Homo sapiens: one gene and its partners. The protein of the gene in region 3 interacts with the protein of the main gene of each other region in a pairwise test. Each region holds a gene or a part of one and is shown on either strand. Other genes may lie near its edges.

Region 1 (7,236 bases), on a different chromosome or scaffold from region 3:
GAGCACAGGCCATGGTGAGGACTGTCGGCCACAGCAGGGGAGCACAGGCCATGGAGAGGACCGTCGGCCACAGCAGGGGAGTATAGGGGAGCACAGGCCATGGAGAGGACCGTCAGACACAGCAGGGGGGTACAGGGGAGCACAGGCCATGGAGAGGACCGTCGGCCACAGCAGGGGAGTATAGGGGAGCACAGGCCATGGTGAGGACTGTCGGCCACAGCAGGGGGGCACAGGGGAGCACAGGCCATGGTGAGGACTGTCGGCCACAGCAGGGGGGTACAGGGGAGCACAGGCCATGGAGAGGACCGTCGGACACAGCAGGGGGGCACAGGGGAGCACAGGCCATGGAGAGGACTGTCGGACACAGCAGGGCGGGTACAGGCCATGGCAAGGACCGTCGGCCACAGCAGGGGGAACACAGCAGCACAGGCCATGGCACATGGGCACGGCGGGGCTGGGCCTCCTGCTGGAACTCCACTTGGGCTTCAGGCCACGAGAGTGGATTTCTGGGTCTCATGCGGTGCAGGTGTCCGCCTTTGCAGCAACACAGCATCGCTGCTGCCTGAGGTGCCCGCACTTACCACCCCCCGGCCCCATCTTGGGGAGAGACTATGTAACGTGGCCCAGGTCAAGATCACAGTTCAGGTTCCCTCCCCTCCCGACCACTGTCATTAGGGATCCTGAGTCCCAGAGCCTTCCAAGGGGCTTGTCCATCTGTCTGTCTCTCGTGGGTAAGTGGGCCCGGGATGCTTGCTGTGTGGGGGCCTCTGCCAGGACCTGGATCCCTGCTGCTGTCCACCCAGGGGCTGTCCAGGAAGCAGAGACATGGGAGGTATATGCCCACGGCTGTCTGTAGGTCTGGTGGCCAGCGTGTGAGGGTCTGTGTCTCCTTGCGTGGAGAGGACAGCACTGGGATGTGAACAGGCCGGGCGTCCCCTGAAAGAGACAGCCGGAACTGGGTGGGGGTGGGCGTGATGATGGGGGTGATGGTGGGGGTGGTGGGGGGGGTGGGCGTGATGATGGGGGTGGGGGTGGGGGTGGGGGTGATGGTGGGCGTGATGGTGGGGGTGGGGGTGATGGGGGTGGGCGTGATGGTGGATGTGATGGGGGTGGGCATGATGATGGGCGTGATGATGGGGGTGGTGGTGGGGGTGATGGTGGGGGTGGTGGTGGGGGTGGGGGGGGGTGGGCCTGATGGGGGTGTGGGCATGATGATGATGGGCGTGATGATGATGGGGGGTGATGATGGGCATGATGATGGGGGTGATGGTGCCCAGGCCCTTCAGCACCGCAATATGCTGCGGAAGTTCTTCCGGAAGTTGTCATCTAGAAAGGCGTAGAGGAAGGGGTTCAGGCACGAGTTGGCGTAGCTGAGGCTGGTGATGACGTAGGACATACTGATGACCAGTGGGGTCTGGGGCAGGTCCGTGGTCAGGGCCACGACAGAGGCCAGGTGGAAGGGCGTCCAGCAGAGGAGGCACACGGCCAGCACGACGAGGACCAGGACGGTCACCTTCCGCCTGGCCTTGCCTAGAGCCTTGGCTCCAGAGCGGAGCCGCACGGCCCGCAGCCTGCGCAGGAGGTCTGTGTAGAGCACACAGATGGTGCACACGGGCAGCACGAAGCCCAGGACCAACGTGTAGACACGGCTGGCCTTGAACCAGACCTGCTCGGGCCACGGGAAGCTCAGCCCACAGCTTGGGACCTGCAGCTCGTTGCTGTAGACGCCAGCGAAAGAGAAGAAGGGCAGAACCAGGACCGTGACGCCCAGCCAGACACACAGGCTGGCGACCTTCGCCCCCCGGTAGGTGCGCCAGGGCATGTGGCGGGACCTCACGGTGGCCAGCACCACCAGGTATCGGTCCACGCTCATCACGGCTAGGAAGTAGATGCTGGAGAAGATGTTGTAGTGGTCGACGGCCAGCACCAGCTTGCAGAGCAGCTCCCCGAAGGGCCAGTACTGCAGCAGGTGCTCCGCGATGTTGACGGGCAGTACCAGCGTGAAGAGCCCGTCGGCGACGGCCAGGTTCAGGATGAACACGTTGGTCACCGTCTTCATCTTGGGCGCCCTTAGGATTACAAGGATGACGGCCGTGTTGCCAGTCAGCCCCACAGCACAGATCCCGGAGTACACGGCGGGCAGGAGCACATAGAGGAACGGCAGTGGCTCGGAGAAGGTGGCATTGTGGCCAGTGCCATTGTCCTGAGAGACGTTGGCACCCATCGTGGGGAGGGAGAAGGAGCCCCTGCTGTCAAGGGGCTCTGGGTGCCCAGCGGCCTGCATTGTAGCTGGGACCGTTGACGATTTGCGCCCTGGGCAGGTGGGAGGTGCCTTGGAGTTGGGTATCTGGTTGGGGGCCTCCTTGGGCTGGATTCTAGGAAAGAAAAACAACCAGAGACTTTGAGATCCGGCCGTCTGTTAGGGCACAGCCACTCCAGGTTCTCTGGCAGAGACTGCGGCCACTTTGCCAGGTCAAGGACATGGGGCCAGAGGGAGCCTGGTGGGGTGTGTGGGGGCCTCCTCCCGCCTCTTCCTGGTGAGACTTCAGCAGATCAGTTCCCTCCTCCCGCAGAGAGCAGCTGCTGGCCACCCTCCTGGGAAGAGATGTGGATCCGTCCCTGCCCCAGCAACCCGCAGATGCACGGGCTGCGTAGAATCAAGCGGTCCCTTTGGAAACACACCTCCCAAGCTCATCTCTGGCTCCCTTGAATCTGAAGGTCCTTCCCTCAGGGGTCTTGGAGTCTGCACCCTCCCTCACACCCTCCCGAGAGATGCTGCAGACCCTGCTGGTCCAGCTACTCTTCTCTCCACTGACCTGTCCAGTGCTTCGAGTCCAGAAGTTGGTAGCCTTGGTGTGTTCCTGGTTTTGGCCAGTACAGGCAGTCGCAGGGATGGAGGGCGAGGTGTGGTCCTCACTGACAGACCTCCAGCTGAGGTTTCAGGAGTTTCAAGACCTGCCCTGCTGGCTGCCTCAGCCCCGGCTGCGAGGTTCCCAGCCTGGTGTCAGTGCTGATGCTGGTGAGGGAGGGAGGCGGATCCCCCTTGCTGACGTGGAGCCCGGAAGGCAGGCCCCACCTTCCCCTGAGCTGCAGTAGCGCCTGCAGTCGGCTGTCCCAGGGTCTCCTCAGCATTCACTTACCCAGGCAGACTCCTCAGTGGGCGGCTGAGGCACGTGTGCGCCTGTGTGTCAGGAAGGGACTCCATGCAGGGGCCTCTGGGTGTGCCCAGGTCTTCGGGCAGAGGGCACTGAAGGCATCTGTGCCTCTGTCCGGGAGTCACTGTGGGCCTGGGCACCCTTATCTGTGAACATGGGTGTCTTGGTGGGTCTCCTGCCCCACCCTGTGTGTGTACATGGTGTGTTCCTGTGTGTGTGTGCCAGTTAGGACATGTACGTGTGTGGGCCTGTGTCTGCCTGTATGGGGGTCTCTGTGGGTGAGCTCTGCGTTGTATCTGAGTGGGTCTACATGTCCTTGGCTGAGTGTGGGCATCTGGGGGGTCTGTATGCCCTCATGTGGAAGCAGAACTTGTTGGCCATAGGCAACCCACCTTCTTTTTTTGTCTTTTGCTAAAAGAGGAACTCAGCCTAGGCAAGCTGTGAAAGGCTGCAGAGAAGACGTTCTCACGCTGACACGTAACTCTCCCGCCGTCCTGCAGAGGTGGTGAGCATCACACTCTGCTCTGGGTTGGTCTTTAAGTCCTTCCCTTCTCCCTGCTTTTCTTCCTTGCTGGACGCACCCTGGCTTATCCAACCCGTGTGTGTGCAGCTCGGCCGCATCTGGACCTGCTTTGCAGGCAACGCCACAGCTGACACGAGCAGTCGCCAGTCTCAGAGCCGCTCCTCAGCGGAGACGTGTTGGGTCAGAGGGTCTGTGTTTTCTTTCCTTTCTTCTTTTTTGAGACAGGGTCTTGCCCTGTCACCCAGGCTGGGGTGCAGTGGCACTATCATGGCTCACTGCAGCCCTGACCTCCCTGGGCTCAGGTGATCCTCCCACCTCAGCCTCTCAAGTAGCTGGGACTACAGGCATGTGCCACCATGCCTGGCTAATTTTTGTGTTTTTTTTTGTAGAGACGGGGTTTCACCATGTTGCCCAGGCTGGTCTCGATCTCCTGAGCTTCAGCCTCTACCTCAGCCTCCCAAAGTGCTCAGGTTATAGCCATGACCCACCGTGCCTGGTCACTGTGTGTTTTCAGTCTGGGGAGATGTGTCTGCCCATCGAGACTGTGCCCGCTGCCTGTGGGGTTGCAAGGATGTCACCGCACACTCATGGTCGGCCTTCTTTCCTGAGAGTTGCTCTGTCAAGTCTATTGGTTAGGACAGGAGCCTGGGCAGTCGCCCTGAGTACCCTGATGTCGCCAGCCTGAGGGTACACTGTGGGTGGGCCCCGAGCTACCCTTCTATGGGCTGTGCCATGTGGATGTTGAGTCCGGGGTCAGGGAACCCTGCTGAGATATCTCACACTCCTCTTCAGCCAGTTTGGGGATGGCGGTGGGGGGGATCTGTGGGTGTGTCTCGAGGGAGCGTGGGGCTTGTAGCCACAGTTTGTCACATAAGTGGAGCTTGACGCCCACAAGGTCAGGGGATGGTGATTAGCAGCCGTGAGGAGAGGGTGCATTGGGGCTGAATTTTGTGATTTGGGGTGTTCGTGGGGTCGGGAGGGGTCAGTTCACAGCTCCTGGAAACCAGAGGCGTGACACAGAGAGGCCAGGCCTGGCATGTGGTGGCCCAGGCATTGACCAGGGTGTGGGCTGGGCCAGGCGGTCACTGGTCTTGGCTGGGGAGCGGCCGACCATGGCCTCAGCACCGGGCACTGGGAGAATGTCCCAGGCCTGCTGTCACCGAGCTGCTGTCCTGGGGTGGGGCTGGCCACGCTGGCCTGATTCTGGGCCTCCCTGGGGGCCTGCTGTCACCGAGCTGCTGTCCTGGGGTGGGGCTGGCCACACTGCCTGACTCTGGGCCTCCCTGGGGGCATTGCTGGGGGCCTCTCCCTTCCATGCATTTTGGGAGGGGCCCAGGCTAGTGCCGGTGCCTTCCTCTGCCCCCCAGGGCTGGCTGGCAGCCTGCCCAGTGACCCCCGTGTGGCCTGAGCTCTGGGCACCCCTGCTGGTCTTTGCCCTGCAGGATACCGACTGCCACCCACACCTTCTTCAGAGCAGGGTGTTCCAGGAGGGTCTTCCCTTAAGCCTCAGTAGTGGGGAGCCCAGTGTCAGAGGCATCCCTCAGAGCACAGAATCTTCCCATGCAAAGATCCCACTGTGTGTCTGGCTTCCTCTGAAGCCAACCACGAGTCTGGGTCCTCTTCCCTCCACCGGTATCTGGTGAGTCTGGGAATCGGAGCCCCTCCCAGACTCTAGCTCTGCTCTCCTGAGCCTGTCCTGAAGGCTGGTCTGGCACCACCGCCCGCCGGTCACATTGGAGGTGGGGTGCGCATGATGGAAGGGATGGGGACCCTGAGGGCAGTGGGGATGGGGGAGACTGCCAGGTGCTGAGCTCAGGACCCCGGGGAGGCCGGCTGGAGGTGTCAGGTCCTCCTGGCCACAAAAGCAGCAGCCCCAGGGGCCTTTTCCTCCTCCCAGAAGCACCTCACCGATGCCCGCTGCAACACCAGGGCCTGAGCCGGGGGTGCTCCCCCGTCTGTACCCCCAGCACTCAGGGCTCAGAAAGGCCCTTTGCTCTGTTCGTGGGCTGGGCATTGTTCCAGCCAGCTGTGAGCTTGTGAGAGCATCGTTCTGTGGAAATGGTTTCCATTTTCAGAAATAAATTGGCCTTTTCAAATGAACCTGTGAGGCCCTTTGGGTGAAGAGAGGAGAGGCCAGGGAGGGAGGGAGCCGTGGTCAGCTCTGTTGGGCAGAACGGTGGTGGGGGCCTGACAGCAAGGCCACTGACATGGCACATCCTCTGTCTGGGGTGTGGGGTGAGGGAGTGATGGGTGCCAGTCAGTGTGCATCTGAGCATTTTGTGGGGCTGCGTGTGGGGGTCTTGCAGGGACCTGAAGGAGACCCCTAGGGCAGGGGCCAGGGAGAAGCGCCAGGACCCTGGGACAGCCTGAGCAACACACAACATAGCTGTGCTGGCTTCACGCTTGTTGCCGCTTCACATAGGTGTGGCAGCTGCCCTCCACCTGTCCCCCTGTGTGCAGGGACACCTGTCCCTCAGTCCGTGCTGCGACTTGGATCTTCACACGGGCATGCATATGTGTAGCAGGCATACAGACCCAGAGATTCATACAGACTCCAGTGTGCTTGTTGACCATCTCATCTCCAGCCAGGCAGGCCCTGGTAGGAGGGGTGGATTCTGCCCTGTGGCCAGAGTCCAGGCCTGTCTGCCCTGCTCTCTCTCCTCCATCAGCTCTCCAAGATGAGCCTCAACTGTAGCTGTGGCCCTGCAGGTTAAGTCCTCCCAAGAGGCCTAGGCCATTAAGACCAGTGAGAGGGCCGGGGGCGGTGGCTCATACCTGTAGTCCCAGCACTTTGGGAGACCAAGGTGGGCAGATTGCTTGAGCCCAGGAGTTCGAGACCAGTCAAGGCAACATGGTGAAACCTCATCTCTACAAAAAAAATACAAAAGGCCGGGTGCGGTGGCTCACGCCTGTAATCCCAGGACTTTGGGAGGCCGACGTGGGCAGATCACCTGAGGTCAGGAGTTCAAGACCAGCCTGGCCAACATGGCGAAACCCCGTCTGTACTAAAAATACAAAAATTAGCCGGGCGTCATGGTGGGTGCCTGTAATCCCAGCTACTCGGGAGGCTGAGGCAGGAAAATTTCTTGGACCTGGGAGGCGGAGGTTGCATTGAGCCGAGATCATGCCACTGCACTGCAGCCTGGGGGACAGAGCGAGACTCTGTCTCAAAAAAAACAGAAAAACAAACATTAGCTGGGTATGGTGGTGCATGCCTATAGTCCCAGCTGCTTGAAAGGCTGAGGTGGGAGAATCGCTTGAGCCCAGGAGGTCAAGACTGCAGTGAGCCGAGATCGTGCCACTGCACTCCAGCCTGGGTGACGGAGTGGGGCCCTGTCACAAGGAAAAAAAAAAGACCAGCGAGAGTTCCAGGCCTGGTGTTCTCTAAGCAGGTAATTGGGCAGCTTAGCTCTCTCGAAAGAGATAAGTAATTCAGGGCCAGTTTCCCTCAGAGTGGGAGGTGAATTCTCCAGGGAAGCTGGGAGAAAACACACTTTATTTATAAAACTGGGAAGGGGCCATTTCTCATTTAAATTCAGGATTCCCCACCATACCTCG
Region 2 (5,525 bases), on a different chromosome or scaffold from region 3:
ACACGCACCCACACATACACGCCGGAGAGCAGGCACACGCACCCACACACACGTACATGCACCCATACATGCACGCCGGAGAGCAGGCACACGCACCCACACCCACACGTACCCACACGTGCACGCCAGAGAGCAGGCACACGCACCCACACGCACATGCACCCACACGTACCCGCACCCACACGTACCCGCACCCACACGTGCACGCCAGAGAGCAGGCACATGCACCCACACGTACCCGCACCCACACACACACACCCCCACACGTACACGCACCCACACGTGCACGCCAGAGAGCCTCCTGCCTCCACGGCCCCGCCTCCCACAGTGCTCAGCAGTGTGTGCTCCCCACTCAGGGCCTCATCAGCCACAAGGATCCCTGTGCAGGGCCTGGCTCCATCCAGGGCCACCCAAGGGAGCTCCAAGTCCGTGCTCCCACCACAAAGCGGAGCAAGAAGCCAACGGGCCAGCGCGCTGGTGAGGATGGACAAAAGCAATGCTTTTAAAGTTTTCAGACTTTATTTCACAGCGATTGACACAGAAACATACTAGAGTTAGTAACACGGCACCCAGCCCCACCGCCGCCCGCTTCATCGGGTCCTGCTCCTAGGAGGACTGGGCTGGGGCTGGGGGTGGGGATGGGATGGGGGTGGGGAAGGGACGGGACGTTGCAGTTTAAGGCATTTCTGGCTTCGGAGCCATCCCTGCCACCTCTGCACCTGCCCCTTGACCTTGGTCAGACACTGGCTGGCCCCTGGTCATTCTGAGACAAGGACGACTTTCACTGACGCTGTGGGGAGGATTTGCAGTGAGGCAGCCCTCAGCCGCTCTCAGGCGAGATGGGAAAGATGAGACCCACCACTCCAGGGGTCAAATAAAATCAACACATGAAGAACACAGCCATGGCCAGGCCCAGATACCCAGGCAGGCGGCAGAGGTCAACCCCATCCCACAGTGAGCTCCTCTCGATAGCCCCTCGCAGGGCCTGGGGTGTGGCAGAGGGATACGGTCACGTCCAGGGTGGCTGGGCAGGGCCAGCTGAGGGTCAGGACACCCAGATCGGCCCTGGTCTGGCCTCTGCTCCTCAGCAGCCTGGGGCTGGCGCAGGCAGCACGGGAGCAACGCAGAGCTGTGCCCAGCAGTAACATTGTTTGGAAGTCACAGTATTGGCGCAGGAGGCCGAGGCAGGGCCCAGAGCACACACAGGAAGGAGCAGCTCAAATGGGGGCTTGGAAAGGCCCTGTGGGGTCACCCGGAGGAAGGGCCCCATCAGACCTCAGCAGCCCCTTCCTCTCTGGGACACGAGTCCCGCCTGACGGAGCGAGGGTGATTCAGGAGCCGGGGCTGCTTCCCGGCGGGGACACCGTGGGGCAGGCGCAGTGCAAGGCGGGGGCTCAGCACCTTGAGGCAGGGGTGTGTGTCCTGAGGCTGCCATCCACGCCGAGCCCTCCACGCTGCCACCTCGCCTGTCCATCCCTCGGCACTAGGTCTGTCTGCAGCACGGCTGCCTGGACGGAAGGGAGGCCGGGCCAGCAGTCCCTCCGGCCAACACTCAGGCAAGAAAATCATATCAAAAAGCAACAAGTTTACAAAAATAGAAAATAATTACAGCGGGCGCGGGGCTCTGGTGCCAGCTCATGGGGTGGGGCAGGGCCGCAGCTCTGGCTTGGTGACGGCGTCCTCCAGCAGGTGCAGCGGGTGCCGGCCCACCACCACGTCCCGCAAGCAGCCCACAAAGCCTGTGCCGTAGGCCTTGGGCAGTGCTGGGCCCACGGGCAGCTCCGGCAGGCCCCCTGCAGCACAGACAGTGGGAGTCACCCGGCTGTGACTCAGTGATGCTGATGGGCACCCCAACGAGCAGGTGACCAGCAGGGGGCCCACACCTGGGCACCCGCCTCCCGGCCCCACAGCACTGGGAACTGCAGGGGCTACAGCGGGAGAAGAGAGCCCAGCCCGCCGGCTCACATGCACCCTGACTCAAGGGTGGGCGCTGGGGGGTGGAGTCTGTCCCTCGGATATCATGAGACCCTTGGGCATCCCTCTCTAGTCTCCCCAAAACACTCACCAAGCCACAGGGCTCCATCAGTGTCCAGCTGCGTGGCGCCCAGCGGGGAGGAGCCGGTCACAGGGGCCTCATTGCCCACCTGCAGGGAACCTTCCCTCTGCTCCCTGGGTGTGCAGGGAGGGGGAGACCATCAGGGCCCAGAGTTCCCTCTGCCTCCTCTAGACCATAAGCCCTGCATCCTTCCTATGCCCTGCAGGTGCCTCAGCCTGGAGAACCCCCGAGGTATCACCCCTGGGGGCAAGGATGAGGTGGCCTTGACCCCAAGGAGGGCACTGGGAGCCAAGGCCGGGGACATTCCTGCAGCTCAAGCTTTGCTGGAGGCGACGGCCAGGCTCAGACTGGAGCGACCCCCGGCAGGCTCCGGGCAGGGCCGGGATGCCTTTCAGACGTGGAAACTGATCATTGCTTCTCCTGCATCTTCTTGGCCCTTCCTCCTCCCACTGGCAGTGACCTCGGCTCAGGCAGCAAGGCGTGTCCTCCCTGACCCCTGGTCACAAGTGACTGGACACAGCCCAGCTGGGCAAGTCTGGGCAGCCCTCGCCACTATTCTCGGCACGCTGGGTTCCCTACTCACCTATGTGCCACGACCCGCAACCAGCGGTTGGTGTTGACGGGCACGGTGGAACGCAGCACCACGGGCTGGGAGCCCAGGTTGTAGCTCAGTTGCAGGTGCCCGTCCACAATGGCCAGTGCCACATAGTCTGCCCGCTCCGTGGCCTTGCCACTCCAGAGCACCAGCCCCTGCGTGGCCTCAGTGCGCAGGCTCAGTTCAAAGTGGTTGCTCTGCAGTGCCTTCTCGCTGGAGGGCAGAGGGCAGGTCAGGGCCTCTAGGAAGGTGGCAACAGGACAGGGTGGGGGAGGCGGGAGGACAAGGGCCCCAGCTGCGGAGGCCACAAGGGCTGTGACGGGACCCAGGGGTGGCTGGTGGGCAGACACCGACAGTGGGAGGGAGAAGAGGGATGGAGACAGGGGCAGCCTGGCAGAGAGAGATCAGAGAGACGGGCGGGAGGACAGATGGGCCAGCCAGGGGTCTGCAGGCACTGCTGCCACGTGCTCACCTGTGAAGGGCCCCGGAATCCAGAGTTTCGGGGCTTAGAAGCAGGAAGAGAGGGAGGCGGGTGAGCAGGGGACAGGCGGGGCCAATGCAAACCCATCTCAACACTGTGGGGTGCAAGGAGCAGGCACCCACAGAAGACATGCGTGACCTCGAGGATCACTGGCCGCCCACCAAAGAGCCCAGCAGGGACACCTACACATGCTTGTGCGGACACGAGACACGTGAGGGTGCAGACACCCACGTGCAGACACGAGACACTTGAGGGCACAGACACCCACATGCAGACACCCACGTGCAGACACCCACGTGCAGACAGCAGGGGAGCACAGCCAAGGCTGGGCGCAGAGATCAAGGAGGTAGGCGTAGGGTGGTATGGAGTGGAGACCAGGGGCTTGGATGCCCCAGTACACACATGCATGTGTGCATGCACGCAAACCTACACACGGACACACACACCCCTCCATGTTCACACACATACACACGTGTACACGAACACACACAGACACACCTGAGTGCTCCCCACTTACACCTGTTCATACACACACACATCTACATATCCCCCCATATATACACGCATATACACGGACCCATGCACACACTCGGACACACACCTGTCTCCCCCACATATACACACACATACATGGACCCATGGACACACACTCGGACACACACCTGCGTGTCTCCCTCATATACACACACATACATGGACCCATGTGCACACACTATACACACATGGACCCATGCACACACACTCGGACACACACCTGCGTGTCTCCCTCATATACACACACATACATGGACCCATGTGTACACACTATACACACATGGACCCATGCACACACACGGACACACACATGCATGTCTCCCTCACCTATACACACACATACATGGACCCATGTGCGCACACACTCAGACACACACCTGCGTGTCTCCCTCATATACACACACATACATGGACCCATATGCACACACACACACACGGACACATACCTGCATGTCTCCCTCATATACACACACATACATGGAGCCATGCACACACACGGCCGCATAGTCACACACGCATATCTACATGTCCCCCCCACATATACACACACACATATACATGGACCCATGCACACACACAGCTGGATATTCACACACACTTGCACATCCACTCCATATACATAGACACGCACAGACACAGCTGCATGTTCACACACGCGGAAGTGCACACGGACACAGACATGCATGCATATGCGCACAGGTGTGTACAGCCTCAGTGGTGGGGGTTGGCTGTGGGGCGACCCTCGGCCTGTGCCCTGGGAGGGGCGACTGCACTTCTGAGGCAGGAAACGGCCTCTTGCAGCCAAATAGCGCCGGACCCCCATCCTCCGCCACAAGGGATGGAAAGTTCCCCGGGGGCTCCGGACTCTGCTCCCCACCAGGAAGGATGGAGGAGTGGGAGTGAGAGGGAGCGGGGGGCGCCGAGCTCTACTCACACGGGGATCTCATTGGCCAGTTCGCTTGGAAACAAAGAGACAGACAGTGAGAGGCGGGAGGACCGGGAGGTGAGAGAGAGGCGGGAGGACAGAGGTGGCAGCACCGGGCCGTCCCCTCCTGGGCCCTCCTGGTGTGGGGGTCCGGTGTCCCGCCCCGAGGGCACAGATGGAACCGACAGCCAGCAGAGGATGGCACGTTACCTCTCGGTCACAGCGTTGAGGTACTCGACAAAGGTCCGCCCGTCAAAGGCCAAGGTATCCACGTCCCCCGCTGACTTCTCCACCAGCCCTGTGAGATAGGCAGGTGAGGGTGGGGCCTCGTGGGCTCCGGGCCCATCCGGCCTCCGCCCCCTGCCCTGTGCCAGGCTCACCCTTCTCGCAGTGCGGTCCTGAGAATCCCCCGGGACACAGGCACACATAGGCAGCCTCCCTCGGGACGCAGGAGGCCCCATTGAGGCAGGGGTGGCCTGAGGCCCGGGTGCAGGGGTGACCTGCAAAGGACGTGACGTCCACCTGCCGCAGCACGTGCTCCGGGGTCAGCAGCTGGCGGCCTCCGAGGGAGACCTGCAGGGCAGGGTGAGGGCCTTGTCCCGCCTGCCACCCCGCCCGCCCCGGAGGCCCTGCTGGGACGCCCCGCCCCCACATACCAGCTGGATGGCACCGTCGAAGCCAGAGGACACGGCAGCAGCACGGGCCAGCTTGCTGAAGTCGGGAGCGCCCCCTACGTAGAGCGGCTCCTTCAGGTTGAGGACGGTGTGCGGAACCTGCGGGGACGCCAGGTAAGTGGCTGTGCAGAGCCCACCCACGGTGCAGACCCAGGGCCCAGGCACCTGCACGCACCCGCCCCACCCGCCCATTGCCTATCTAGGGGGCAGCGTTAATCACACAGAAATGGCAGGGTCCTTAGTGGGGGAGGAGCTACCCT
Region 3 (7,203 bases):
AAAGTCACCCTGTGACTCTGATGGATCAAGATTAAAAACAAGACCACTCCATAATCATGTTTGAATGCTGACAAAAACAAAGGCATTGCCCAAACCACAAGAATAACCAAACAACCCTCCATTCTGGCTGATATGAGTGACTGCTCCTTCTTTATCAGCTATAGTTTTAGCCTCGATCCATTTTTCTTTCCTTTTAGATAAAAGTTAACACATCCAATCATAGAATTACTACCATTTCCTGACGCTATACATTCCAGAGTAAAGCCCTACTTCCTTAAACCCTCTCTAGAAATTGCTCAACAGAAGCCTATATCCTGTAAGTTCTAACACCTTCTGATTGAGAGGCCCCATGGTTTATGTTTTCCCTTGTTTGAACAATTAACAGACCCAACTTTACTAAATGACGCATGTGTTCCTGGTGGTCTTTAACTAATGGTCATCGACAAGTTAATAAACTCTAACATTCACATTCACCATTTTCAGCCTGAAAGTCAAAATTTTAAATGCACTTGTCAATTTGAAGATTGGACTGATTTTGTTAAAAAATTATATACTTGTAGCTCATAAATGTTTATTCCAAAGAATTAGCTCAGTACATATCCACATGTTCACAATTCTAAGTTAGAGGACATAATTTAAATTTTAATAAATATATATAAATGTATAAGCCTTTGCAGAATGGTAAGATAATAGACTTTTAAGGTATAACTGAAAAAAAACCCAAGACTTGAGAATCACATTGAAGAGAAACCAATTCAAGAACTGGTGAATTATTTTCCATCTGGAAACACTAAACACACTTCTGAGACAAACCCCATAATATCCTAAAGACAAACCCCATAATATCCTAAATGTGTGCTTCAAAAAACTTGAAGTAAACTGGGTGTTGTGGCTTGTGCCTGTAATCCCAGCTGCTTGGGAGGCTGAGGCAGGAGGATTGCTTGAGATCAGGAGTTCGAGACCAGCCTGGGCAACAAAGAAAGACCCCATCTCAAAAAGAAAGAAAAAGAAAATAACAAAAGCTTGAAGTTCATAATTCCAATTCTCTGAGAAACAAACTCATGAAAATGAATCTCCAGCTCAGGTAATAAAGTTGTTCTTTTTCAAATTTGTTCTGCTCTTTCTTCTCTGGCCAATACAATCACAATCCCTAAATTAATCTTTGCAAGATGTACAGAGAAATGACTAGGGCAGGAGTGGCAATTGGGCTATAGGCTGGACCTTATGGGCTCTCTTCCCCATCCAGCCTTAAGGAAGTATGTACTCCTAATAAGGGAATATGTAAATACTTCTTTTAAAACACAGAAAAGCCACCACATTTAATAATTACTATGTTGTAGTTTCCAATGAAAGAAACTGGGAATCTAATCTTAACAGCTTTCTCTCTGGGCACTTGGAGGTTATTTGTGACTTCAGTCACTTCGCTCAGTAGGATATAATGCTCAGAATGGGTAATTCTGGAATGCTTAGTATTTTTCAACTATGGATTTTGTATTGCTAGAGATAATATAACAGCTCTAGTAGATGTAATCTTGTCTTTCTGCCCATTTGTTTACAGTGTCAAAATTACCTATTTGCTAAATTTAAAAAATCATTCTTCATGAAATTCTCTTATTGAAAATAAGATGTACTAATATGTTCGCAAGTTTAAGTAAAAGACAAACCCCATTATATTTCATTGAGAGAAGGATGAAATGAACGGAAGTAAACAGTGCTTTATTTCCAATCTCGAGAAACTAAAGGATACTCCCTGAGAAAAGAAAAACAACCTTTCACACTCAATTCACTTCATTCTCCTCCACTCTCTAAGGCTCTATTGTGGGCTCGCTCTGCTTAAGTTTTCTCCCTCATCATTTTCTAACATACGATATAGTTTACTTAGTATGTTTATTATCTGTCTCCACTATTATGTAATGCACCAGGGCAGAAGTTTTGCTTTTTTCATGGCAGCATCTAAAGTACTGACAGTACACAGCAGGTGCTCAATAAATATCTGTTGAATGACTAAAAGTGAATCATTTCTTCAGGAGAGACCTGCTCATGATATGCCAAATAGGCTGAAGGCTAAAGAATACAGTATAACAGCAGTCTAATACATATATATATATATATATATATATATATATATATATATATATATATATATATATATATTTGAGACAGTCTTGCTCTGTCGCCAGGCTGGAGTGCAGTGGCGTGATTTCGGCTCACTGCAACCTCCGCCTCCCTGGTTCAAGAGATTCTCCTGCCTCAGCCTCCTGAGTAGCTGAGACTACAGGTGCGCACCACCACGCCCAGCTAATTTTTTTGTATTAGTAGAGATGGGTTTTCACCATTTTGGCCAGGATGGTCTCGATCTCCTGACCTCGTGATCCGCCCACCTTGGCCTCCCAAAGTGCTGGGATTACAGGCGGGAGCCATCGCGCCAGGCCTACAAAATATTTTAATGTTAGCAATAGCAAGGCTCAGGTGGAGGCAACATCTAAGTTCATTATAAACAATTAGCGATGCATTGAGTTAAACAACAAAGAAAGCCTGAAATTCCACTAGCAATAATTCCGCATGTGTTACGGAAACACCTAGATGGGGACTGTTGCCGGGTTTGAAGGCTCCTCCGTTTGCTAAAACTTCCAGCACTAGAGAGTTTATTAAACTACTCCTCCAAAGCAATGTGCCCTCACTGGCCCCTCCCCTTGAGAATCAACCTCGAGATCTAGCATCTATTTTGCAAACGAAGACAGCAGGAACGGGCGGGCTAACCGTCGCAGTCACTGCCTCGGCGCTCCTCCCCCTCCAAGGCCAGCAAGTTGCGGCACTGGGGGAAATGGCCGCGGCGACAACTTCCTCGAGTTCTCTCGGGTCATCGTGAACTTGGGCACCGAAACGAGGATCCACCCCCTCCCCACCAAAGTGCGGGAGGGAAAAGAAGGCTAGCCAGCGAGAAATTTTGCCCCACAAATCCGCCAGCAGCAGTGGCGGGAAGCCTCAACGGCAGCGACCCCGCCGCTGGCCTCGTGCGCAGCTGGTCCCCACCCTCGCGCGGCGCTCCCTGATTGGCTGCTGGCGGCGGGACGGGGCGGGGCGGGATGGCACGTTGCCGCTGCGCCTCGGGCCTGTGCGGGCAGTCCTCCTTCACTTCCCCAAGTCCACCCTGACTGGCTTGGGTGCACAGCCAGGGCTAGAGTGTCCGGGTCCCGCCTGGGCCACAGGCGGGCCCTGCCAGGTCTCTCAGACCTTCCGGTCCTCGCTGACCAGTCGGGGAGTGGAGGCGTCGACCGCCCTGGCAACTCCTCGCCTTGGGCGGCTGGGTCGAGTTCGGCCGCAGGGAGCGTCAAAGACGCTGCCTAGCCCAATTTCGGCGGGAAAGCGGTTTACCTGCTCGGACTTCGCTGGGTGCCTGGCAGCCCGCCGCCTCCCGAAACATCCACGCCTGAGGTCCCCTGGCCCGTCTACACCCAGTCCAGGCCCCGTGGCGGCGCCTTTCTGACCCCCATGACACAGCCAGACGAGGTCTGCGGGCGGGTGGCTCCTGGCAGCGGTCGATGGGGCACCTGGCCACGTTTCTTCCCAACCAGATAGCGAGCGTTTGGGGCCTTCACCTCGCCCCTCCAAGCCCTCAGGGACAGGCTCCACGCTGCTCCTTCTCCCCGCTATCCCGCGCCCTGGGGCCCTGATCGCCGTACTCACCGGCCCGGACTCGGTTTCCATCTTCCTCTCTGCTCTTCAGAGACGCGGGGTAGGGAAAAGAAGCCTAAAGTTTGAAACCACCTTCACGCCAAGGCAGCAGCGCTGCTTGTCCTGCCTGGGACTCTCGCCCCCTGGCGGCGAGGGTGGCTGTGGCAGCTGCAGGGAAGCAGGCTCGGACCCCGGCCCTGAACCTGCCACCTGGCGGGTGGGGAGAAGCGGACTGCGTCGCCTCGGGTGGCAGGTGGCGGTGCGGGCGGGCGCTGCAAGCCGGAGAGGGGCGCGGGAGGGCGAGTTTCGGCTGTGGCCCTGGGACTCCGAGCCGGGGCGTCTCAGGGGCAGAGCGCACGGCACAGCGGGGCGGGCGTGGGGCGTGCGGAGCGAGGGCTCGGTTCTGGGACCCCTCTCGCCTTCTCTCAGACGGCTGGGGAGGAGAGAGCGAGCGGTCAGGCAAAGCTCCATGCACGCCTTCCCCTCTCCTCCACTTGAGAAGAGTCGGCCTCTGGGACTGGTGGGTTTCGAGAGGTTGAGGTGACCTTAAGGCTTTACTGAGGTAGAAGAAGCCGGTTGACGGGCGACTTCCGAAGACTGGTGTAAAGCGAAGAAGGTTCTAGAGTCAAACTCTGACTCTCGGGGCCTGACTCGCAAAACTCGGGGGCTCCCGAGAAGCCGCGGACGCCGCTCTGCACCTGTTGCCGCCGTCACTCATCCCGCCAGGCGGGCGGGGCCGCGCGGGTGGCTTGGTCAGGACCTGCCATTCAGCCCAGTCGGGCTCCGGTGCTCGCCCCGGACGGCGCCCCAAGCGGGTCCCGGCCCCGCTGAGCACCTCCAGCAGTGGCACAGCCTCTGGAGGGGTCCGGGACGAAGCCACCCGCGCGGTAGGGGGCGACTTAGCGGTTTCAGCCTCCAACAGCCTTGGGATCGCCTTTGGAAGAAGATTGCGCTTTTTTTCTTAAATTAATGAATTAATTTACTAATTATTTTTATTTTTGAGACGGAGTCTCGCACTGTCGCCCGGGCTGGAGTGCAGTGGCGCGATCTCGGCTCACTGCAACCTCCGCCTTCCGGATTCAAGCGATTCTCCTTGTCTCAGCCTCCCGAGTAGCTGGGATTACAGGCGCCCGCTACCACGGCTAATTTTTGTATTTTTAGTAGAGACGGGGTTTCACCATGTTGGCCAGGCTTGAACTTCTGACTTCAAGTGAGCTGCCTGTCTTGGCCGCTCAAATTGTTGGGATTACAGGCTTGAGCCACCGTGCCCGTCCAGTTGACTAATTATTTAGACACGAAGGCTCACTCTGTCGCCCAGGCTGGAGTGCAGTGGTGCGATCACGCTCACTGAATTCTCGACCTCCTGGGCTCAAGCGATCCTCCCACCTCAGCCTTCTGAGTAGCTGGGACCACAGGCAGGCCCACGCCACCATGCCTGGCTGAAAGAAGACTGCTTTGTAAATAATACGTATTTCTAGTAGGTAGCTAAAATGATTACAACTGGATAAACTTATAGTAATGATTATCATTATTATAGCTGCCATTTATCAAGTACTCACTTTGTTTCAGGCACAATGCTTTATGATCAGTATCATTTAATCTTTTCATGCTCACAGCAACCTTTCAGATAGATGCTCCAATTATCGTCATAGTACGTGATGAAGCAGAGATTTGAAGGATAAGTAATTTGGTCAAGATCTAAAGCTGTAGGAGGTTTAACCCTCGTCTCCCCCCCAACCCACAGTTCTTGATCATAACCATTTTGCCACATATTTTTAAAGAATCAGCAGTAACAACTGTTAAAATTTACACCAGTAATAACTATTGTACACACTACTATAAAAGTTTGACTTTGGGTTACTTTGCCTTCAAGATATAGAATTAAAAACAGAGTGAATATATTAATTTTTGATTTATTCAAAGATTAGCTCTTCATATTATTTTACCCAAAATAAAATGGGAAACAATTTTTGTTTATCTTACCCGAAGAATCCCTAAAGTCATTATACATTTCTGCATGCAATTTAAGCTCATTTTACCAGGTTTCAGTCTCTGTGGAAATCGAGAATACAAACCTATTTAGATGAAAACTCATATTCTAAAGCATAATAATCTTACTGTTCAATACCAGTAGAACTAATCTTCTTTGGGCATTTTTTTTTCCTAGGACTGTTGCTGGATTTGGGTAGATGTTACTATCCTCTCTTGCCCAAAACATTTTGACTAAAAACACTTATTTTCAAGAACTACATTCTCTTAAAAAATGTATTCAGCGCAGTAGGTGTTTAATCTGACAAAAATTTACGTAATTTAGGGAACGCTAACTGTATTTCAAGGCTGGTGTTGGGTACTAGAGGGATATACTTTATTTTCAGTGTGGCAGTTCTCTGTTCTGCCTCTTACTATTAATTCTTACACCAAAAGGAAAGTTCAGCTTTAAAACTTGGATAAACCACATAAAATTATGCAATGCACCCCAATTTAGTAGACACTTAACAGAGTTCCTATTCTGTGCAGTACATAATGGAATATAATGTGGGAGATATGAAGATGAAGAACAGGGGTGTCCAATCTTTTGGCTTCCCTGGGCTACATTGGAAGAATAATTGTCTTGGGCCACACATAAAATACATAAACACTAACGATAGCTTATGAGCTAAAAAAATAAATCACAAAATCTCATAATGTTTTAAGAAAGTTTACGAATTTGTGTTGGGCCGCATTCAAATGCGGCCCATGGGCCACCAGTTGGACAAGCTTGAAGAACAAGGTCAAACCTCTGTTCTCAAAGCATTTTAAATCTAGAAGGATAGAAAAAACTAATTACTCCAAACAGTATAATATAAATATGCTTATAAGAAAATAAAATACAGGCATAACAGGCTGAGTGATATATTAACAATGATCAACGGTCTGTGGGAGAACAGAGGATAGCATCATAGAGCACAGTGTCCAGGGCTGGGTAAGGGCATTGTTAAGGCTGGAATGCTGGTCTGGGCAGAAAAATTGAGGGAAAGATATTGAGCCTGCATCATGTACCTAATGCTGGGCTAGCCACATTCTTTTTAAGTCTTAGTTCTCTCTTTTTCTTAGTCTCTCTTTTTCTCTCTCTCATTGGAAACCTGAGTCTTAGAGAGGTAAAAGTGACTCTCGTGGTCACATTGCTAGTAAGTGGTGGATGTCATTTTCAAAACTTTGTTCCTTTTTTTAAATTATACCTTAAGTTCTAGGGTACATGTGCACAACGTGCAGGTTTGTTACATAGGTATACATGTACCATGTTGGTTTACTGCACCCATTAATTCATCATTTACATTAGGTATTTCTCCTAATGCTATCCCCCCCCTACCAGCCCCCTACCCAACAACAGGCACTGGGGTGTGATGTTTCCCACCCTGTGTCCAAGTGTTCTCATTGTTCAGTTCCCACCTATGAGTGAGAACATGTGGTGTTTGGTTTTCTGTCCTTGCGATAGCTTGCTCAGAATGATGGTTTCCAGCTGCATCCATGTCCCTGCAAAGGACATGA
Region 4 (7,028 bases), about 180 Mb from region 3:
ATATGCAAACCCCTATGAGAAAAATTTTAAAGCACTCAAATGACACTACAGTAAACTTGAACAAAAATAAAGACACATCACACCCTGGACAAGAATACTTGATGTCAGCAGGGCACGGTGGCTCACGCCTGTAATCCCAGCACTTTGGAAGGCCGAGGTGGGTGGATCACTTGAGCTCAGGACCAGCCTGGGCAACATGGTGAAACCCTGTCTCTACAAAAAATTTGCCAGGTGTGGTGGCGTGCACCTGTGGTCCCAGCTACTCGGGAGGCTGCGGCGAGAGGATCACTTGAGCCTGGGAGGCAGCAGTTGCAGTGAGCCAAGACTGCACCACTGCACTCCAGCCTGGGTCAAACAACAAGACCTCCTTGTCAAAGAAACAACAACAAAAACAATAACAACAAAAAAAACCTGATGCTTGATGGCATAAAGATGTCAAATTTCCCTAAGTAAATTACAACATTTAATCCTATCTTCTGGAAGTAGATAAGCTAATTTTGAAGTTCATACAAAAAAGCAAATAAGCAAGAACCAAAAACTTAAAACCCCAAAAAAGAAGAGTAATAGATGTATTAGCCTGCCTAATAATATAAAGCCTCGAGAAATAAAAACCGTTGTGCTGTCCATGAATAGACAGGTAGCAGTACATTTCTAACATAAGAGGACAAACAAGGGATAAAGCGGGTGGGGAAAAAAGGAAAGAGAGGCAAAAAGAGGAAAGAAACGGGGCCAGAGTACATGCTGCGACTGGCACTCACCTATAAATGTGGACTTTTTTTTTTTTTTTTTTTTCTTGAGCGGAGTCTCTCTCTGTCACCCAGGCTGGAGTGCAGTGGTGCAATCTTGCTTCACTGCAGCCTCCGTCTCCCAGGTTCAAGCGATTCTCTGCCTCAGACACCCAAGTAGACGGGATTACAGACCCCCACTGCTAAGCCCAGCTAATTTTTGTAATTTTGTAGAGACGGGGTTTCACCATGTTGGCCAGGATGGTCTCAAACTCCTGACCTCAGGTGATCCACCTGCCTCAGCCTCCCAAAGTGCTGGGATTTCAGGATGGCGCCACTGTGCAGCCTGACATTTTTGATGAAAACAAAAAATAGGCCAGACGCGGTGGCTCACACCTGCAATCCCAGCACTTTGGGAGGCCGAGGGGGGGCTGATCACCTGAGATCCGGAGTTCAAGACCAGCCTGGCCAACATGGTAAAACCCCCGTCTCTACTAAAAATACAAAAATTAGCCAGATGTGGTGGCAGACGCCTGTGATCCCAGCTACTCAGAAGGCTGAGGCAGGAGAATCTCTTGAACCCAGAAGGCGGAGGCTGAAGTGAGCCGAGATTGCCCCACTGTACTCCAGCCTGGGTGAGAGTGAGACTCTCTCTCCAAAATAAACAAACAAAAAAACTGAAAAATAAAAATTAGGGCTTAGGAAGCCTTATTGCACTAACACAGAAGAATATGACATTAAGGAAAGACAACCCCCTTCCATAGACTCTGATGTTGACAGTCTTCATACAAACTTAGACAAAATCAGACAGGCATAAAAATGTTTACACAAATCTACACCTGATAAAATAAAATAAAACTATACATACATACTGCATCAATATCATATTACTGTTTTTGATACTGTACTGTAATAATTTAAGTGTAGCCATTAGGGGGAACTGGGTAAAGGGTATAGGGAAGTTATTCCCATATTATTATTGTGGGAGGTAGTGGGGAGACCTAGTACAGACAACATCATGTACCAAGCTTGAATTCTAGCAGATTAAAAGTCAAAGACCAAATAACTTCATGGAAAAAAATATTTTACAAAAAAATGTAAATGAACATACTGACTTGATAATGGACACAAGTAAATTTGAATTTCCAAGTGTCTGACTTTCTCAACTTCACATTGGAGAAAAACTTATGTGATAATAACTTTTATCGAATTACAGATTTTTATTTAATTAAACCAGTGATGCAAATAATAATCAGAAACAATTCCCTAGTTAATAAACACCTTTGTCATACAACCTATTACTTGTTGATCTCAGATGTTTCAAAAAGTAACAAAACCTCACCAATCAGTAAACGAAAAGTGAAACATCCTAGACATTTTAACAAGACTTTGGTCAAAATGAGAACGTATGAAGACTCACCTATATGTGGCTGCTGAGCTGCTGCTAATGCATATTGCTGCTGTTGAGCTGCAGTTAACTGTTGAACTGTTAGTGCATTAGTCCTCTGAAAGAGCTATTAGGGAAAATATTTAACACAAAGATTAGTGTCAAAATCTTTCATTTCTAATTAGAAATCTGAATAAAACATTTTAAACATTTTTTCTTTGGGAGGACTTTCTCAAATACAGGACACTTTAATCAATAAAACATTTAGTACTCAAAAACCCCTACCATTCTTTTCAATGCCACATAGCACTTCAGGCTAAACCAGTATACAGTTAAGAGGACCTTCTTAAAGAAAGAACATGCTTTTACCTGCTGCTGGGAATTGTAGTCAAAAAGGCCTACAGTAGCTCCTGAAGAGTCCATTGGTACCTGATTACCAGGATAGTCAAACTGTAAGGATTCCAGACCAACTTGTTCCATGGCATCCAGATTCTGAGTTTCAGGATTTGAAAATTCTTCAACAAGTGGTTTATTAGCTGTAGGATTAGGAAGAGGCCCCAGTCCTTCTGAGGGATTAGTATTGGGGCCCAAGCGCTCAACTACTTCAGTTGGAGAGGCTTGACGACTTCCAGGAGTACGACTACATAAAGAAAATAGAAAAGCATTATGAATAAAAGTAACAAGTCAAATAGCGAAATGGGAAAATAGAAAAATCATGAAAAACAAATGGTCATAAAACACAATGAATAAGGCATTCTGGGTCACTATGCCACCTTATCACATTTTTTTCTATTTAATATAACTTTCCTCTTAACAGCTGGCATGATTTGAGGATTTTAAAAATATTATTAATGATTACTCCCTTCAATCTGAATAACATAAAGATATAATGCAATTTTACACATTAGAAAAACTGGCCAGTATCACAACTTAGGCTTATACTACCTGAAATCTCTGTCTCAAGTCACAGTCACAAAGAACAGTGTATTAACAGCAGGTTATTAAGTGGCAAATATGAAAAAGCTCAAAACCAAAACCCACTTACCATACTGCTGTCCTGCCCTGCCAACACATAATTTTGCCATAACATCCTGCTTAATAATACTTAAGAAAAAAATCTGGCCATAAGAGATCATAATGGTCTTCATTATTTAAGGGGCCAAAATGTGGGATGCAACAGGAAAAGAGTACTATACATGATAAGTCAAAAGGCTGACTTCTGACTTTGTCTTTTAAATATGATTTTGAGCAAGTCATGTCATCTTTCAAGCTGCAGTCTTCTTATTGAGGAGACTTAAGAGATGACCTTTTGATTCCAACTAATAAGAACAAAAGCAACTATTTATGAAAGCCCACTATGAAAGCCCTCCGAAGACCATGCTTATTATACCAAATAGTTCAGCTGAAACCATCAGAAAGAAATCGAAATGTATGACATTTATCAAAACTTAAGTATACACAGCAAGAAAAGGATCTTTCTACATTAAAAAAAAAAAAAAGGACCTTACTACTATACAGCCTCCTTAATTTTCACAAGGAATTCATTAACACTGGACTAAATTTTAAGCACTGGCTTCTCTTTTTATTAACACCTTCATGGTCTAAACTTACATTTCTAGCCCATTATCAATCCTCATTTATAGCTTATCTTATACATAAATGTTTTATATAGGATCCTTTCCTTTGTAAGAAAGAGTTTATTGTTCAGAGTAACTATGCATTCACAGGATATTCAAACTTGAGTACATTAAGTAAATGGCAGTAACTGTTCTACCTGGCTTTTAATGCCAGTTGCTACAGCTAACTCTTCCCAACTTCAGGTGGTCTGAATTGGAATAAATTTGCTAACATATAGAGTAGTTTACAAAGCAATTTCTTGATTACAAGAATTGTTCTCTGTAGATATGTAAGCAAACTTACACTCACTTAAACATCAACCATTTTGTCCTTGCAAAATCAGAAGATTTCAAACTCCTTTCCCTTTAAGCCACACCTAATTTTGTACGTGAACATCCCAAAGGCTCTTTTTTCATTTGGAACATATGGAATGAAAAGATAAAACTAAAAGCATTTTCTTTAAAATCAGCCAATTTTTCTTTAAAAAATAAGTGTCCAATAGTTCTTTTACTCATTTCTGTTCTACTCCAATAATGTATATATTGATGACATATTAGTTAATGTAGAAATTAATGATGTGCTGGCATAGTGACCGTATGACCACAGCTGTTGATTGTGTTAACACATTTTAATACTGTCAAGTAGTAACTAATACTGTATCTAAAATAATTAGTAATTTAAAAGATACCTAAAAACTTAATGGAATAAAATTAGAATGCTAATAAATGTAAAGTCCACATTAATATTTCAGGGGAGACGTATAACCTCTCACACAAAGTAACTCGTATATAGCAAAAATAGAGGACATTAGGAAAAAAAGTAATGCTATCAGTGGTGCTATTTTCTTGCTATAGTTAATGGTGTATTAACACTTCAATTATAAATGTATACTCTGAAGGGTTTATCATCTACTTAATTTTACATGCATTTCCTTTACTAAAACTTAGATTAGGTAATAGTGAAGAACAAACTCGAAATAAATTTCTAAATCTGAATAGCATTAAATGTATTTCTTGTTAAAAGAGGTTTACTGGTTTTGGATGCTTTTTTGCACTCAGAACAGATAGAAATGGCACTGTTTTTAAGAAGCATTGTTACTTTGCTTTTGAAGGCAATAAATGTAAAAGTATACCACCCACCATATACCTAATACTTTTTTATGTAAGATTCCATGGTCATAAGACCTCAAAGAAACAACTCATTTTCAGATACAAGCTCCAAAGCACCTCATTATTGAAATACTACAGAAAATCAATACAAAGAAACAACTCCCTAATATATAGATAAATATATACTGTCTAATCTAAGACCAAAGGCTAAAGTACTCATTTAACTGCCATAAAAAGACAACAAAAGGCTACAATGTAAAAAATTATGAGCTTAAAGCTAACTTTTAGAAGTCTCTAATATGTTCCCTATTTGCTATTTGCAGGAATAATCTTAAGTATTAGCACAAACTCATATATTTTAAGAAAGATTACTGCTCCTAAGCTAATTTTGTCTCCTCTTAAAAGTTAAATGGGAGGCAGGGCATATATACTCAGAAGGAAGAAAACTCCACTGAAAGGTGCTCAAAAGCACTCCCAAGAGGGGAAAAAAAAAAATCAGAGTAAACCTACAGTTCACTAAAATTTAACAGAGAGGAAAAAGTTCAAATTTAGACTATTATATTACCAGAAAAGTAAGCACAGCTTCTAACATTACTCCTTCAACAGAATGCACTGTTTCAGAGGCTGGTTTGAAGATTATTTTTTTAAAATGGTTCATAATCACAAATTTTCTTTATAGTAAAAAACTAAAATTTGTCCAGATTAACACAAAGTTCAAAGGAAATAAACCTAAATGATGAAAATGTCTAAATCAGTCACATCAACTAATAGTAATAATCCCTAAAAAGATACGCTTTTCTTCTTGAGAAAGTTAAAATCTTACTTAAAATCTTTGCAATCGGCATCCATTCCATTTGGCAAACCTCTGCCATTTATTTTAGAATCATCATCATCTCCTTGTTTAAGATCTCTGTTTTGGTCCTCCTCAAATGGAGAAGCCTTGCCTTTTTGATCTCCTTTCTCAGGTCCATCTGTTTCAGCATCTCTAGTGCCCTGAGGAAAAAGAATCTGTTTGATTCTGAATATTTAATAGAACACAAAAAAAAGGCACCATAAGGTGACCTAACACTACACTACAGTGCATGTAAACAATAAAAGCATTGAATCTTATTTAATTTCGTAGTCAATTAATTTATCAAAGGCCAAAAAATTGCGTACAAACTAGTGATTTATAACAGAAGGGCTAAGGCAACCTTAACTATAGCGGTGCTGGAAAAGCAGTTAACACCACAAACTAGATTAAAATTTTCTTTAATGCGTAGACGATTTTGTTTAGTTACTTTCAGATCAAGCACTACCAGGAATAAGCAATTTTAATTTTACAGATTATGTTTAAAAATTAGTATGATTTGACTTTTGTAACATGGTTCAGATTATACATATTTCCAATGGTTCTATCATTTCACGTTTTTCAAGTGGCTAAGCAGAAGAATAGCAATAATAGTTACAAAATTTCTCTTAGCTATAGGAAGGGCACAGAAAAACAAATTGAATTAAAAATAAAAGTAACGTAACCAAATAACTCTCAAGCAAATATTAAATATTTCTTTATTCAAAATACTTACAAAATTTCCCTTCCTAAATCGAGAATCCAATTTATCAGCAGGAGAAGAACTTAATACATATTCTACCATGCTCACACCAAGGCCTCCACTTTCTGATCGCGGAGACAGTATTGCATTTACTTCACTGTTTCCATGAAAACCCTGTCCAGATCTTCTCTGTACCATAATAGGCTGGGACATTGAATGGTCTGTTTGGAAGAAAAAACACAATTATATACTTATACTTTTAAGTTAAACAAAATGTAGTTAAATTAATATACTGAAGTAAGAAAAATCAGCACATTGTTTTATTTTGAATGTTATTACTATAATCTTTATATAAAGCTCTTCATAGGACACAAACAAATGGAAGAACATTCCATGCTCATAGATAGGAATAATCAATATCATGAAAATGGCCATACTACCCAAGGTAATTTACAGATTCAATGCTATCCCCATCAAGCTACCACTGACTTTCTTCACAGAATTAGATAAAATTACTTTAAATTTCATATGGAACCAAAAAAGAGTCCGCATAGCCAAGACAATCCTAAGCAAAAAGAACAAAGTTGGAGACATCACGCTACTTGATTTCAAACTATACTACAAGGCTACAGTAACCAAGACAGCATGGTACTGGTAC

The links.
Region 1: the proteins of BOLL (region 3) and NPBWR2 interact in binary tests that used the Homo sapiens proteins (3 or more experiments, as listed by UniProt).
Region 2: the proteins of BOLL (region 3) and AGRN interact in binary tests that used the Homo sapiens proteins (3 or more experiments, as listed by UniProt).
Region 4: the proteins of BOLL (region 3) and PUM2 interact in binary tests that used the Homo sapiens proteins (3 or more experiments, as listed by UniProt).

What each region holds. Positions count from the first base shown.
Region 1 is NC_000020.11:64,104,548-64,111,783, forward strand, and holds the start of NPBWR2 (neuropeptides B/W receptor type 2), read right to left. Parts: upstream 3,019-7,236; 5' UTR 2,817-3,018; intron 2,376-2,816; 5' UTR 2,285-2,375; coding exon 1,283-2,284; 3' UTR 1-1,282. UniProt on the Homo sapiens protein: Interacts specifically with a number of opioid ligands. Receptor for neuropeptides B and W, which may be involved in neuroendocrine system regulation, food intake and the organization of other signals.
Region 2 is NC_000001.11:1,051,092-1,056,616, reverse strand, and holds the end of AGRN (agrin isoform 2 precursor), read right to left. Parts: intron 5,365-5,525; coding exon 5,248-5,364; intron 5,165-5,247; coding exon 4,972-5,164; intron 4,890-4,971; coding exon 4,802-4,889; intron 4,625-4,801; coding exon of another isoform or gene 4,601-4,624; intron 3,157-4,600; coding exon of another isoform or gene 3,124-3,156; intron 2,865-3,123; coding exon 2,640-2,864; intron 2,170-2,639; coding exon 2,066-2,169; intron 1,794-2,065; coding exon 1,636-1,793; 3' UTR 1,241-1,635; coding exon of another isoform or gene 1,218-1,240; 3' UTR 501-1,217; downstream 1-500. UniProt on the Homo sapiens protein: Isoform 1, isoform 4 and isoform 5: neuron-specific (z+) isoforms that contain C-terminal insertions of 8-19 AA are potent activators of AChR clustering.
Region 3 is NC_000002.12:197,782,296-197,789,498, forward strand, and holds the start of BOLL (protein boule-like), read right to left. Parts: upstream 3,025-7,203; 5' UTR 2,761-3,024; exon of another isoform or gene 2,721-2,760; coding exon of another isoform or gene 2,706-2,720; exon of another isoform or gene 2,337-2,705; coding exon of another isoform or gene 2,334-2,336; intron 1-2,333. UniProt on the Homo sapiens protein: Probable RNA-binding protein, which may be required during spermatogenesis. May act by binding to the 3'-UTR of mRNAs and regulating their translation.
Region 4 is NC_000002.12:20,305,833-20,312,860, forward strand, and holds part of PUM2 (pumilio homolog 2), read right to left. Parts: intron 6,592-7,028; coding exon 6,404-6,591; intron 5,832-6,403; coding exon 5,662-5,831; intron 2,753-5,661; coding exon 2,482-2,752; intron 2,240-2,481; coding exon 2,146-2,239; intron 1-2,145. UniProt on the Homo sapiens protein: Sequence-specific RNA-binding protein that acts as a post-transcriptional repressor by binding the 3'-UTR of mRNA targets.